Linked DNA regions of Homo sapiens: region 2 is linked to region 1. The links come from fine-mapping of genetic effects on gene expression. Tissue or cell type: testis. Region 1 holds a variant in brackets; the other region holds the start of a gene. All regions are shown on one strand. Distances are between the middles of the regions.

Region 1 (8,110 bases):
TTTTTGTATTTTTAGTAGACAGAGGGTTTCACCATGTTGGCCAGGCTGGTCTCGAACTCCTGACCTCAAGTGATCCACCCACCTTGGCCTCCCAAAGTGCTGGGATTACAGGTGGGAACCACCACACCTGGCCCAGAATATAAAGACACTTTTGTAATGTGCAATGAAAAATATGTAAATAAAATATTTTTATCTGTATATGTTTTTATAGAGGCTATTCCCTTTGCTCTAAATCCTCACACTTCTTGTTTGTGAAGCTCCATCTAAAGGTAATCTCTCAGCCGGGATCCTAATTTTTCTCCTTCCTTATCAGCGAAGCCTGCATCCTCCCCTCCCACCTTGAGTCATTAGTTTCCCGTCTTTCTCCATGGGTTTCTGTCCCTCTGCCACTCATGTTTAGCAACCTCCTCACTCCAACTCTACCATCCTATTCTTTTTTATTCAATCCTTGAAATAATGCATGTGAAAGCTCAGATATCATGAATGATTCCTCATAGCCTATGTGATAAAATTCCTACATCAGCCCTAAAATCTAGCCTCAACTCCCTGAACAATTTTTTCTTCCCCTATTTTTTTGCTCATGCAACAGGTGTCTTTATTGTTCCTGACACATTTCCCACAGTCCTCCCCCAGCCCTTTGCTCCCGCCATTTTTCCTGCCTGGAGTGCCCTTTGCCATCTTTCCTTGACTAGACAGTTACGTCTTCTTGCCTCCTCGAAGCTGTCAGCTGCCTGCACTCGTGGTGTCTGTAGCATTCGTGAATGCATGTGGTCTTGTATTGCTAGTTTCTTTAATGTTATGCTTCAAGGCCTAACTAAATCATAAACCCATTCTGGAAAGAGCATATGTGTTTTAGCTCACATCTTCCCAGTACTGAGCCAACACAGAACTCAGTCAAAATGTCTTCCACTCCTGAGGCAGTCATAGCCTGAAACACATACATGATATTACATTTGGGCCATTAAAGGACTCTAACTTGAACAAAAGTAAATAAGGAAGCAGTAAGTATACAACAAATAGATTTATCAAGAAAATGAAATAGCTATAGCAAGGGTCCATCCTCAAAGAACAATCTGCTCTATTAAAAAGTGCTCGGCCATGTGACTTAAAAGTTGTGAACAAGACAATATTTTCTTATTCATCAGGTCTCGAACAGGTAGAACAATGTGTGTAAAACTAAAGATTATCCTGCTTAAAAATTTTGTTTTATTTTATAAAGTTAAAATTAAATGCAGCCAGTGGAAGTATCAGAATGGACAGGGAATAGCAACTCTTACTTCTTCCCCCTTGTTAGACATCCTTCTTTTTTCCTAAAGGAAGAAGATCCTAACAGTGCAATGGATAAAGAGAGACGAAAGTCTTTACTAAAACCAAAATTATTGAGACTGCAGAGAGACATTGAAAAAGCCTCAAAAGACAAGGAAGGTGTGTAACCATCTCTTTGAATGGCCAGAAAAGGGACCATATGATGCTCAGAGGTTTCATTCAGAGTTAGGATTGATCTGCTTTTGCTATTTGGCAGGGGTCTTCTCATTTAAAGAACCATATATCAAACTTCAGTTGTGTGAACAAAAAAAAAAAAAGTAGAAGAAAAAAGAAAGCCAAAAAAAAAAAAAAAAGGAAAATCACATTTTGGTCTATTTATGAAACCTATATAAGTATTATACTACTATTTTCAGAAATGTAGCATTTTAACTGTGTTTCTGAAATTGGCTAGAATGAGAGATAATGTGTTTGGTTTAAAACATGGTCAACCAACTGTGCATGAGAGTTTTGGATGAGTTTTTTGGTTTGTTTCTTTTGACTTTTGAAACAATGTAAAAACCTTTCAAATTAAATTCTGTACGTAGAAGTTAGGCATGTCAGACTGTGAAGCAGCTCTAAAGCAACAAGGATGACAAAAACGACTCCACATTTGTGACTCTGATGTCTACCTAGTAACTTGTTTTATATGGACCACGATAACTCATTGCAATGGAATACTAGAGAGCAAATTCAAGATAGAAAACATTTAGTGATGTGAATACCATAACGAGGAAGAAGCCAACGTTGGGTAACTGTTAGCAATTGCTAGAATGGGTCGACTGAAAGAATTTCAAAATCTCATCTGGAAAAATAACAATCAAGATGCTTTAAGCACCAGCACTTCTCAAATTTCATTAAGTGAAGAGAAAGGTAAACAGTTCATTTATCATTCAGTCAAATTTATTAAGAACTACCTGCAGAGACTCCCTCAGCCATTTAAGAAACCCTACTGGTGGCTGGGTGCTGTGGCTCACGCCTATAATCCTAACACTTTGGGAAGCCAAGGCGGGTGGATCACAAGGTCAGGCGCTGGAGACCAGTTTGGCCAACATGATGAAACTGTGTCTCTACTAAAAATACGAAAATTAGCCGGACATGGTGGCATACACCTGTAATCCCAGCTACTCAAGAGGCTGAGGGAGGAGAATTGTTTGAACTTGGGAGGCAGAGGTTGCAGTGAGCCGAGATCGCGCCACTGCACTCCAGCCTGGGTGACAGAGCAAGACTCCGTCTTAAAAAAAAAAATCTCACTGGTATCACTTCTAGGCTCCCTTTGAGAGCGACCGACTCCTGGCTGTGTCCCACTGAGACAGTGTGAAAGGTGACTGAGAACATGATTTCATTTTCAGGCCTGGAACGAATGCTTAAAACGTACTCCAGCACCTCCTCCTTCTCTGATGCAAAGAGCCAGAAAGACACAGCAGCGTTAATGGATGAGGTAAATGTTTGCCGAGTGCATTTCCTAGATGTAGTGATGAAAAGGGTTATTTTTAGAATACTTGTTTCTGGTCCACTTGGCCTTGTTTGCCTTTCCTTTCTCATGACATAGAACAATCTAGTGGGGGAGCTTATAGGGTCAGCTTCATAAGTCATTTGAGGGATCTGGAAAAATACAACTACCTAGAAATGTTTGCTTTGGTGTCCTAGGAAAAGAATTGTGTCTAAAATAGTATTCTCCAAACAGAGTCGTTCTTTAAGGGCCTAGAAACCATGTGCACTTTAACCCAGTTAAGAAAAGCGACAGGAAACAAAGGATCTGCATTCAGAAAGGCCTGTATTTAGATTTAGCTCTGCTGTTTACAGGGACCTGGGTCAACTTTAGTTTTCTCATCCGCAAAATGGGGATATTGGTACTTTACCTCATGGGGCTTTTGTGAGGGTGAAATATTATTTAGTAAATACCAGCACAATGCTCACAGGAGGAGCTCAAAAACTAGTAATTTTTATTAAGGTGGTATTTTCCATTCATCCCTCTGCTGATCTCAGGGTTATCGGAGAATAACAGGGGAAAGGAAAGACGTGGTTGCAGAGGGAATAGGGCAGTCTGGTGTGTGAGGCAAAATCTGGGGAAACCAGGAGCAACTTTGAGGGCAAAGTTCTTTAAGGGTGGGAATTGGGGTGGGGAGATGGTAGAAGAGGCAGGGAGGTGGGCCTCCTGGCCTTTGTGCTGAGTGTGTGAACTCTAGCCCCATAGACATTCGTGGGGATTGATGGACATTTTGGCCACTTCAGAGGAAGGGAAAGGGATAGTTAACAAAAAGCTGATGAATTTTACACAGGAATAAAAATGAACAGATATATAGCACCAGTGTGCAACATATGGGTTTCTGCTGTGATTAGAGATCATGAGTGGACTGGGGTTAATCTGAGAATCATTTAAGGAGATAAATTTTTTAGCAATGTTTTGAAGGTACAGGAATCTGGGCGTTTTGTTTTTCTTGCTTATAGCCTAACTTTCTTGTGAAGGTAGGTACTTGATAATTGTACCCAGATTGGCAA[T/C]TTCAATAGTTCTTTGGTGAAAGAAGACAGATGCAGTGAGGTATCGCTGACCTAGTTTTTAGATAGGCTTTCTTGAGTAAGGTGCTGTTGCAGAAACAAGCCTAACACTTCTTGTAAAAGAAAATAGCCTGCATTGTGTGCACTGGGTAACAGAGGTCTAACATACCTGCAATGACCCGTGGCTACAGTTTTTATGAAATTATAAAACAGACTGTAGGACATTTTCTGTGACCGCACAAGCTGTTTAGTTAACTACTGATGCCATTGGGTTATACATCTATTCCTTTGGCTGTCCTTGCACAGAATTTTGTCATTGTCATTACCAGCATACATGTATTAGGATCATCTGGGTCCTCTCACCTGAAGCACACAGTGGAGGACACAAGGAGGGAGAGCATCTGACCTTGGAACTTCCAATGTTTATGATCTGGTGAAGGAGCAACTATGAACCTTTAAGTGAGGAATGCCAAATATCCACATGATTTCATTACGCATGCTCTGCATCTGGGTAGACAGAAACTAGTGATACTGGTAGATTTTGTGTCACCCACGGAAGGTTTCTAGGATGAGGAAACTTTTATTTACATTCTTCCTTATTTCATTATATCTTGGTCCTTGAAGTGCCATGTTTGAATCAAGAATGTTCACAAGCAGTGTCATAAGAAAAATTGTTGAGAAAACTGGAGGCACTTAGATTAAATACTGTCTTTAGAGACCAGAAAGAGGGCCACATAGAAGAAGAACTAGATGTGCTCTATGAGACTATCAAGTGAAGGTCTAATGGTAGAAAGCATGGGGGAGCTTTTAGTTTTGTCTTAGGTAAGCCTGCCCCACAATGCAGTGGATTCCTCCAACGATTAGAGACTTTCTCCATCAATTGGATGTCTTCTGTCCATGGCTGTGACACCCTGGCAGGGATATTAGGGTTGGGAATTCCCATGCTGGAGGTGTGGGGGAGAGAGGGATAATGGTGAGGAGGGGGCTGGATAAGCAAGACCCTTCCAATGCTTAGATTCTGTTATTTAATTCACCCTGGCTGGACCCAGCCTGACAAGGTAATTATAAAGTTTCTAGTTCAAGGTCATATCAAGAACAGACAGAGACTAGGAGTGTATCTTTAGCTTGACTTATTATGTTTATACTCAAATGCCCTAAAATATTGTTCCCAGTTTCCAGAAGTATTCCTGTAAACTTTGTGGGTAATATAAGACCTCACCTTATCAAAGAACAAACAAACCTCACATTCAATTTCATTTGCGTCTATTGATGTTAATTCAATTCTGTTCACAATATTTAGCACTGATGGCTCACCTTCTTCGCAGACCACCAAAAATCTACCTTCTACAATCAACACTTATCCCCTTTCTTGTCCCTCAGCAGAAAATTGAGTAAAACCTCTTCATTGCCATAAAATACTAATATATTACCAAGGTTTCCTGTTCACCCCCAGAGTACAGAATGAGACACACTCAACAACTAAAACCTCCCTCTAAACTGCTTAAAGAGTTTATTCCTCCATTTTTTTTTCCTTCGGCATTTTCTGTGAATATCTGTATGAGTTAAATGCGTACTTTTCTAACCTTTGTTATTTTGAAAGTTATTCTGATATTCCTATCCAGTTGTGCCTCATTTACTAGAAATTTGCTCACATGGCCAAATGATGTATCCACAGAACAATTTGAAACTAGACCTTTTGGAAGCGAACTCCTACAAACTGTCATCAATGTTAGCAGAACTTGAGCAAAGACCTCAACCCAGCCATCCTTGTAGTAATTCCATCTTCAGGTGGAGGGAAAAGGTAACATTTAAGGAGACTGGTTGTAATTTCTTGATTGGGCCTGCTGGGTGGAGTGGCTTAAAGTAGCATCAGGGCAAAAAAGGTGTTAGGAATTCTATGTGATATTAATATTCATGCAGTTAGTTAAGAAGATAAATGTTTTTATTTTTCTTTTGAGCACAATAACAAGAGCTAGACAAAACCGAATACATTCTGTGTACACCAAACTTCTATGAGAAGCTAAAAAACACTTTTGATTTCTTCTTTCTCATCATACCTGAATTTCATCCTTTGGATGTGCTTTTACAGTAAAATTTCTATTAAATTGAAATTTTAATATTCGTTCAGACCTAAATTATAAGATTTTGTGGTATGTATTAGTCTCATCTGTTTAAGATGGTGCCTAATGCAGATAATGCATCAGTACAGCTCTGAAATGCTTGTAGCTATTTTTATTACTGATCAGAAGGGGGAACTGTAATCATCTTGTGAAGGGACAGTTTTCTAAGGCTCAAGAGCTCGAAAACAATCTCAATCATTTACAGGGTTGTGATCATTTCACTTGCATTAAGCCAACTAAAGTTGTATTTGTAAAAGTAATGCTATGAATATTACTATTTGACCTAGACACATAGGTTAGAATTGGAAACACAGGCTATAAAGTATAGTAATTGTGTAATTGTGAAAATATTAAGGCTTCAACTCAAAACTGAAACACAGTAGGGCTTAGAAATCTTTGAATTATTTATACCCCTCAGTTTAAAAACTTCCAGTCCAGGCGCAGTGGCTCATGCCTGTAATCCCAGAACTTTGGGAGGCCAAGGCAGGCGGATCACCTGAGGTCAGGAGTTCGAGAGCAGCCTGGCTGACACGGTGAAACCCCGTCTCTACTAAGAATACAAAAATTAGCCAGGCATGGTGGTGGGCACCTGTAATCCCAGCTACGGGGGAGGCTGAGGCAGGAGAATCACTTGAACCCGGGAGGTGGAGGTTGTAGTGGGCCAAGATCATGCCACTGCACTCCAGCCTGGGTGACAGGGCAAGACTCTGTCTAAAAAAAAAAAAGAAAAAACAAACAGAAAAAACAACTTGAGGAAAACAGCTACAGAAGAGTTAATTTTCATGAATGTTTATGATAATCGTGTTACAAAATATGACTTTTTATGTCATTTGAACAGGAGCATACTCATAGCTATGTGAAAATATCTCGGCCTTTTTTAATGAAGAGATTAGAGAATATTGTGAGCAAGGCATCTTCTGGTGGGCAGAGCAATCCAGGTTCTTCAACTCCAGGTAATCCCATGCCCACAATCATTTTGGCCTGGGTCCTACTGGCAGGGCACATTGCTACATTTAAATTTTAGTTTCAGAGCCACTTTGACCTGTATCTGTTTAAGGAAATTTATATTTCCATTGGGACCGATTAATTTGTTAGACTCTGTAGCTTTATGTAAAAATGGGAAAAAGTTAAGAAGAGTAGAGGGTTGGGAAAGTATCCTATGAGAAGTTGCCTCAGATATCAGATGACTGGCATCCACCTTATTCAAATGGCCTGTTATTTGCCATAAACATAATCACACCTAAACCATCGTGAGGAGCTTTGTCGCTCTGTCTCCATAGCCTCCTCCAAACTCCCATAAGAAGCCTGTCCTCTCTGCGAGACACATGGTGATCCAGGTGGTTTGCCAGGGCTTGGACTCATGGCCTACAAACTCCTGTTAGCAGCCATCTGACTTCAGTCATTCATGCACCCACACACCACACTGCTCTTCATCTTTCAGCACACACACACGTGTCACTGTACCTGCATGTTCAAGTATAATTACCATAATCTTGACTATCTAGTTTTTTAAATTAGAAATTGGTTTAAAAAAAAAAAAAAGAACTTCAGTAAAACCAGGACATTATGGTTCACACAATATATTAAGGAGTCACTGTTGCATTGTTTGAGAAACAGTTCCATACACAGCTAGGGATGATGATAACATGCACATGCCCCAAATATCCCGTATTTATACCTGAATGGCAAAACTGGTGAATGTTTTCCAAAACATGCATGCAATTACTATTATTATACAATGATGTTTTTCTCTAGACTTGCTATTTCATGTATTATAATATAGTTTTTGGTTATATAACATATGCAGTCCATACATATAGAAAGTGCATCATAAGTGGTTATTGAATCAAGGAATGAACATTATATAAAATTACAAACTTTCCTTTTGAGAAAAATTTAATATATTGAAACTCTGCATCACACTGTTAAATAACCAAAGAGCTTCAGCTCATATTCATTTGCCTGCTAACACAGCATACTAATTACAGCTTTATCTATTTCAGCCCCTGGTGCAGCCCAGCTCAGCAGCAGACTTTGCAAGGCCTTGTATTCTTTTCAAGCCAGGCAAGATGATGAGTTGAATTTGGAAAAGGGTAAGAATCATTCTCAAATATTTTAATTGCCTTCCCATATTGAGATTCTTAGCATGAATAAAACCCTGTCTTAGTGTGGCAGCCTTAAGAGTTACT
Region 2 (8,110 bases), 55 kb before region 1:
AGGAGATGCTTCGATCGATCGATCGATCGATAGATAGATAGACAGACAGACAGACAGACAGAAGATAGTTCTTGAGAGAAGAAAAATGGCTTAGAGCAGTCTGAGCTATATGAGGTATGCAAAATTTATCAGGCCCAGAGAGGGGAGTATGGGGCTCAAGTCTTGCTCTGCCTCCTTGAACCCACACCTAGAAGCAATCATGTAAAGGCATCTTGTTCCTGACTAGCTGCCTCATCTGCTATCTTTATGGTCCTGGAATTTGTGATTCACAGAACAGTGTAGAGCCAATCAACAGCTTGTGTTATTTTCATGGAAATTCTTGGCAAACAACTCAGGAGCTTCCTCTTCCTCTTCTTTTCCTTTGAAAACCTACTTGTACCTGCTGCTAACCAGAGCGTATACTCAGGGCCACTTGAAACTATGCTCTTGGGTTGCAGCCCTCAAGCTTGGCCCAAGTAAATGCTCTACTTATATTAAGTTGGCCTCAGTTGTTCTTTCCTTTAGGTTCACATTCTCATCAACCTGTAGGTACAAATGAGGTTGTTAATATTAATTCCAAAACTACAAGATTCTTTGCTCCTCTTACTCACATGGGAACTCAGTCTCCTCCTCCCAAAGTCCCCTTGGGCCATTTTTGGGGACTGGAGGAATTCTCACATGCTCGGGGACAAATGTGCTCACTGTGGTCTGCTCTATCCTTCTCATCAAGATGCCTCACCTACCTGAGCCTCAGTGGCTGAAGACAACTTAGCAGGTTCTCCCTGCTGCTGCCTCCTCACAACCCATATCCAGGAGAGGTGCTTTTTGCTGTGCTCCTTAGCAGAGTATGTGTAGGGTGGAATGTGGGGTCAGAGGAGAGAACAGCCCTTATCCGTCTAGAGTCTTTTATGATTTAGGTCCTCTTATTTCTCTTCCTAACGCCAGTCTGCTGAGGTTCAAAACGTGTCACCCCAGGCTGGATTGGGGAGAGGGAAAGAAAGACATATACCAGCCACCTGCTCCTTGTCCTTGCTGCTTTATCTCTAGTCATTCAAGAACAAATATTAAGCAGCCATTGTAGTAAATTGAATGGAAAACTAACTCCAATTGTCTGCCCCTCTCTGTCTCTATGCCCTTTGCAATGGGACACTAAGTTCCTCCTATTATGAAGTGGAAGCTCTCCTCACCCCTTTAATCTGGGCTGGCCCATGACTGGCTTTGATCAGCTGGATGTGGCTGAAATGATGGGATGTCCATATTAAGCTGTACCTCCAGAGGCCTCGAGCTCTTCCACTCACTCTTGTGGCTCCTCTGCCATACCCTGAGAAGAGCCTGGTTAGACTACCAGCTGATGAAATACGGCCTCAGCCAACAGCTAGCTCCCAGCCAGCCCCCTGCCCAGAAAAGCCCAGATGCATGGCTCTGCCAAGCCCTGTGTAGATGACCTGCTTTTACATGAGTGAGGTCAGGGGACACCTGAAGATCCATCCAGCTAAACTACAGATTTGTGAACCAAATAAAGTCTCTGTCATTTGAAGCCACTGGGTTTCTGTTTGTTACACAGCATTATTGTGACAAAGGATAAACGATACCAACCTATTTCTGACCTCCAAAATCAAGGCTTTTTGCACATTCAAACATTCCTCCGAGAAGCTCAACAAATAGCCAAGTTCTAATTCTCAGTCTGGATTCAGCTGGGATGCCCTGCTGCCCTTACAACGGCCCAGTGGCAGACAGGAGCAAGATGGAAGGATTTTAATTCAGCAGATGTCCAGGAGGTCTGAGGGAAAGCTAGTCAGCCCACTGGGAATGGCACACATGAGGAGTTTGGGGATAGGAGTGCCCTACCAATCTATAATTCGTATACAAAGATCACAGTAGGCTTTGTGTGACAGCACTTCTTATGGAAACTGGCAAGGGAGGCCAATTTCCTCAGTTTGGACTCAGTTGGGACTGAAATGAAACACAGAACAGCAAGAAAAATGGGGCAGGAATCACAGAGAAAACATTGAGCTGTCCCAAGTCCTGGAATGGTGGCTCCGGACAAGTTTATCTAAAATCTCTGAGGGCAGAGAAGCCCCCTCAAGTGGGAATTTGAGTTACATGTTATTAACCTCAGTCTATATCCTGTCTCTAAATTTCTTTTAAAAAAAAAACAAAAAAAGAGATGGGGTGTTGCTATGTTGACCAGGCTGGTCTCGAACTCCTGGCCTCAAGCAGTCTTCCCATCTCAGCCTCCCAAAGTGCTAAGATTACAGGTGTGTGCCACTGTGCCTTACCTAAATTTCTTTTATTATACAGAGTTGCTTTGTCTAATTCTAGCCCTGTGGTAGCTACCCAAGATTGTTGTAACCTCCAGTGATCAAGTTCTTTGGATAAGCAAAGAGGGAGGGCATTAAGTGTGTGGAAAAGACCCCTCCTCTCCACTCTTGTTGCAAGGCAAGTTCTTTTCCTTAATTGTCCCCTGACTCTTCTACGTTGTTTCTGGAAGCTTTTTTTTTTTTTTTTTAGAAGTAGAGTCTCACTCTATTGCCCAGCTTTGAACCCCTAGACCCAAGAAATCCTTCTGCCTCAACCTCTTGAGTAGCTGGGACTACAGGCACATACCACCACATCCTAATTAAAAAAAAAAAATTATAGAGATAGGAATCTCCTGCTATATTGCCCAGGCTGCTCTCAAACTCCTGGCCTCAAGTGACCCTCTAGGCTCGGCCTCCCAAAGTGCTTGGATTACATGCATGAGCCACTGCAACTGGCTTATTTCTAGGGACTTTGAATGGAGCCTGCACACCAGGGGCAGGTGAATGGAGGCTGAGTCAGCCAGTCAGGTGAAAACTGAATGCTTTTAAACTCTGAAGTGTTCCACTGGACTGTGTTGATGGAGCTCCTTTCAAACTGGGGCCTGCCCTTGCCTGCCAGTCAAACAGAACTGTCCACAGTCTAGCAAATGGCTGTCGTACATCAATAGGCCATTCATTGGAAATCTAATGATTGGCAACTGGGACCACAGGTACAGGGAATGCAATAGAACTCAAGCTGTGGTTGAGTTCTTGTTCTGTCTATCCTTTTGAGTGATGAAAAATGAGGCCAGATCTAGGCAATTTTTTCTTTACATTGAAAGCTTAGCCTCTTGATCCTGTTGGGGCTGGAGCGAGTGTGGAGTTAGGCTCAGAGAAGTGGTTAATGTACGCTTTGCTCCTGATAGCTGTTTCTGAACATTCTATAGTTATAGTTCTATAGGTGTAGGTTCCTAGTTGTTTGGTGTCTGGCCCTGTGGGATTTAGGGGGTGGGGGAATATGGGCTTGGTATTTGAGAACTGGGTAACAGAGATGGTGGGGAGGTTTGGGCTCTGGATTTGTTGGTTTGCATATTAAAGGAGTGCTCACAGGCCAGTTGTTTGCTCTCTCTAGGAATTAGCTAACCCTCAGAGAGGCAGTCTGTCTCCAAGTCCATGAGGTCCCCAAAGGTCAAAGCATCATACAATACAGAAAATAAAAAGCATGATTAATACTGCAGGCTGAGAGGATATGTGTTCCTGCACTGTCAGACCAAGCGCAAGAATTGTTGGAGACATGTTACAGCTTCTCTGCCTTCTCTCAATGTTACGCTGTTCAGGACTCAGGATCCTGCCCTCTGAGGGTTTACAGAAGTCATTCTCACTATCTCACACTGGCCGTCTTGACCCAGAGCAGTTCTTTACTTTCTCGGGACACAAACGGGATGAAAGTCCAGGGCTGGGACTTCCTCCTTGGAATGTTTGACAAGGACTGACGTACTCTAGGCCCTTTGAATCCCGGAAGTCCAGGACACACCCAACCTTGATTACAGTGTCCAGAATGCTGGAGCGTAGGTGAAAGGACAAAAGCCAGACACATTTCAACATGAGGGACCCACTGACAGATTGTCCGGTGAGTAGCTCAGTGTGGTTTGTGTGCCTGCGTGTGAGGAGGGTGGAGGGTGGATTTGTATATTAATGGATTTTAACTTAAGAAATTTGAGACACTCAGAAACCAAACACATTTAGATATTGGCTGTGGTGCAAAAGTTTGTGGTTTTTCTTTGGTTCAGTTTAAAAACAGAGCTTTTTCTAGGAAATGACAGGGCAGGTAATTGTCATCTTTCCTTCTCATATTCTTGGAAAAAGTTTTGAGAGAGTAAAGCCTCATATTTGGATCCAGATGGTGGCTGTTTGGAAAACATTCTTAAGACATACACCCATGGTGCCAACATCATGTGTGGTGTGGATACAAAAACACACAGAATGTCTGCAGCCAATTTTTGGCTCTGAGAATAAAGTGAGGGAGGAGAGTTTTTGTGCCTTTTCACCCTCATTTTTTGGAGTCAAGGATCACAAGTCCTGCAGGAGGAAGGATAGACTCCCCACTCTGCCTGGCCTGCAGTGGCTCTCAGACTGGTTTAGCAGCATGTTTGTTCCATGTTTGTTCGTTTTGGTAATGTTTGGAGCACTACCAAAAATATAAGTTTGGTCAGAAGTCCAAAGACATTGTGAGGTCTCCGGCGGCAATAGCAGAGATGTAATTTAGGAGATAAGAAGCAACTAAAATAAAGGGGGGGATATGTTTACTTTGAAAATAAAGTAATTAAGGAGGGTCAGTGTTTTATCCCAACACATGGGGCTGAAAAGCTAAGATTGGTGACATCATAAGCAGGAGGTTGCAGTCATCCTTCATGTATTGATAACACAAACTGTGGGGCGGCAGATAAATGGGCGCTGAGATAAAGTCATAAAGAAAAAGATCAGCAGAGGATTATTGATTTCCTTTTTGTTTATTCAATGGATAAGAAAAGCACATGGTTGGAAAAAATGGAACTATAGTTACTATTGCAGAAAATCAGATGAGCTAAATGAGATGAACTCATAAATGACTAGTAATTTTAATAATGACAACATAGTAGCCAATTCTGCCTAATTTTCCTTTTTTTAAATACAGAAATAATTTGTGCTTAATGTAGAAACAAATTCCAATGATATGGTTATATATAGATTTTTAAGAGTGAAACTTCCCCCTTTAATTACTTCAATCTCAGTGTTCTCTCCATTGTTAATTGTGAATAATTTTTAAGAAGTCTTTTATCATTTATTTTTCTCTCCTTGAGGTTGCTCCCTGACTAAACTGTTAAATCCTCTCCTGTCTCAACACTCCTACCTCAATGTTTTTGTATAGGGGCGGCAGGCCAGGACAGGGATGGGGTAAGTGGCAGCAAAATCTTGGCACTAATAGTAACCAAAGAAGAAAATTAACACCAGGGAAGGGTGCAATGGACAGAAGACAGGGAAATGGTGGGCAGCTTTAATTAAGTTTAAAAAGAGAAGAAGAAATAAATCCATAAAAAAGAAACTGAAGGTCTAACATCCTTTTTGTAGACAGCAAAGTCAAGTCTTCAGACGTGGAGAAATGTTTTCTTTCAGCAGCCCCCAAGGCAACCCATAACCACACTTCTGTGTCTGCTTAAAGCTCCACTCCCTGGCATGCTGAATAGTTCCTTGTGCTATGCTGGGCCAAGGACTCCTGTCCTTGTCTAAAACTTTGAAGGTCATCTGTATGGGCTCATTGCCACCAAAAGTATCCGGGAGTCATGGGGAGGGCGGATATCCCTTCAGCCTGGGTTTCCAAACCCTCTAAACTCACAGAACATTTATTTATTTGCAATTGTTTCATCTTAATCAAGTGTTCAAGTTGATTTCCTGGCACATTCTTAGCTTGTACTTGGGGAACAATGCTATGTGAAGATGAATCTGCGGTTTGGGAACAAAATAAGACAAGGAAATGGATTGCAAATGAGTGCCTCATGAAACATTTAGGTAGTTTTATAAAAGAACCCAAAGCTTTAACCACCTGCAAAATGTCCCCTTCCATGAGTCCCTAGAGTTGCACAGAGCACAGTTCATAAAGTATTAGCTTAGCTACTGTTCTTAACCGGGCCCACACCAATGTACCCATGTATGGAACTCAGTGGGTTGCATGAACTTCAGTGAAAAAAAATCTCTATTTGTACTAATTTCTAACTGAAATTTAGAATTTTATTCAATCCAGAATATAGGCAACAAGCCCCAATACTATTAGTCATATCTGTATAGTGTCTGTGACTTTGTAACCAATAAAAATCAGAAATTTTATGATAACATTACAGTTGTTGCACATATCTAGAAATATTTACATTCACCCTGACTTCAAAATGTTGGTAATACTTAAGATATGTAATTTAGTATGTTAATAAAAAAGCACATAATATCATAATTTTAAAAATACATTCTAAAAAATATATAATTCATTTCCTTTTTAACCCTACGCTACTTAAAAATGTTATTCTGAATCAAATAGGTTTCATGAGACTACAAAAAGGGCTCATGGTACGAAAAAATTTAAAAATCTCTTTTAGATCAAGCTCTAATGGGCAAAATAGACTGACAGCTGGGCCTTTCAACCTCAAAGAGCAAGGTCAGTGTTTGAGTTCAAATTGTTGCCAGGGTGGCATAAGATTGCCTAAATGCTGTGTAGGATTAATCTTGAGAGTGTCAGAACTTATTTGAAAAAGATATCTGTAAGATATCTTTAAAGTTCTGTTTTTGACAAGGAAAAGAATTGGCTCTGGGCCTTGATGTTTCATTGCCTATGAAGGTTTAGGTTTAGCTCTTAAACCTAAAAATATGTCTAGGGAACTCATCTTCAAATCCATGTGCAAGAAAGGCGAAGTAAGATCCAATTATCTCTAAGGGAAAGAATCCAATCATAAGAAAGTATTAATAGCACCTTCCTATCAAACAATCACATAGAAATCAAGGACAAGTAACAAGCTGTAGCCAAATTTTTGCTTTTTACACACTCATACAGTATCCAGGAAGGGGTCTGTCAAAGCAAGTCTTCTGGGCGCCACACAGTCAGCCCCTCCCCGCATGTCATCGGCCATTGAAATGGCACCAGGCTGCTCCTCAGGTTGGTAACCTGGCTCAGATGCCAACCTGAGCTTCCCATCTTGGTGGCTTAGCCTGGATATCAGACAATGACTGTCACTAACTCAGATGGTGCCGGTGCCATGGTCCGTAGCTCCTAGGAGAATCTGACTCGCTGCAAAAATACAGAAGGAGGCTGCATATGGCATGGGTGTCACGTGGCCCACAGCCTCCCCAGTGTGCATCAGTGAGATGTGTAACATGCCATTCCACATTTCTTGGACCTCTGTTTCCTTGTGTGTAAAGTAAAAGGAGGAAAGGATGGAGTAGACTATGCTCTTTAATGTTCCATATCCCGTAATCTATGACAGTCTGCCACAGGGATTCCAAATACTACGCAGATGGTGAACAAGTACATGGAATCCCTTCAGAGAGGGGCAGTGCTTTGAAACATCACCCCCAGTGAATCAGAACTCACATGATATCAGTAGCACAGTGCCTGGCGTAGTAAAGGCAGTCAGCAAAGTTCATTGTGTTAAATTTAAGGGGAATATCATGGTTTCTTTAACACTGTGAGGATCATCACTAATCAAAAAAAATCCTTCTGTACTAGCATCAATAAAAATAAATTTTTCTATAACTTTTTCTAGAACTAAATTTAACCCTCTTAATCATTCAAGCAGAAAGAGCAGGTGGGCCAAGCTTGATATAGGCACTTTATAATCTTTACAAGTCGCCTGTCTAAACATTTCATGTGCTGACTGGCTGGATTACTAAATGTTTTTTGTAATGGCTATATTTATCAACAGAATTTGCTTACAAGTGCTGGGAAGAAACATTTTCCTAATGGCCGAATGGGAAATGTCTGTCAAATAGACCAGTTGTCTATTTGAGAAGGGGTTATTATTTTTTTAGGGGCTCAGGAAGATCCCAGGTATTCCACTACCAGACTGAAATCCCTTTATCAGGGGAGAAAAACCTCATCGTGTTTTTTTCCCCAATAATTAATGGTCCCCAGGAGAAGCAGCATATTAATATGAATTCATATGGAGATGTAGAATCAATAGTAGATTATTCCCTGGAATGAATATTTGATAGGGGGTTAGGATATTTAAAAGCTCAATGGGTAGGAAAAGAACACCAAAATTGCCTTCCACCTGACTGCACTTCTTCTCAGCAAGCTCTTCTTCTTGTGCTGGTTAATGACATCAAGAAGC

Which allele goes with the higher level. Alleles are on the strand shown, and positions count from the first base shown. SD is a standard deviation of normalised expression in the study named.
In carriers of allele T in region 1, the expression in testis of the gene that starts at base 3,852 in region 2 tends to be lower than with C alone (moderate effect, 0.47 SD a copy in GTEx).

What was found. PIP is the estimated chance that this variant, and not a neighbour inherited with it, causes the effect.
Region 2: it holds the start of NOSTRIN, and the variant in region 1 is fine-mapped to the expression of NOSTRIN in testis (GTEx, PIP above 0.99). The same link has a PIP of 0.9 or more in minor salivary gland.

Annotation. Positions count from the first base shown.
Region 1 is chr2:168,854,036-168,862,145 of GRCh38, forward strand. It overlaps NOSTRIN (nitric oxide synthase trafficking), which reads left to right. Exons shown (of 16, transcript NM_001039724.4): 11 at 1,317-1,425; 12 at 2,655-2,743; 13 at 5,477-5,602; 14 at 6,760-6,874; 15 at 7,925-8,014. It also overlaps a transcript of SPC25 not described here. Among named protein-coding and RNA genes, the nearest start is that of SPC25, 32 kb to the right of the region's middle. The variant T/C (reference allele first, on the strand shown) is at 3,805.
Region 2 is chr2:168,798,786-168,806,895 of GRCh38, forward strand. It overlaps NOSTRIN (nitric oxide synthase trafficking), which reads left to right and starts at 3,852. Exons shown (of 16, transcript NM_001039724.4): 1 at 3,852-3,888. The coding sequence starts at 3,862. RefSeq lists an enhancer at 3,296-3,795.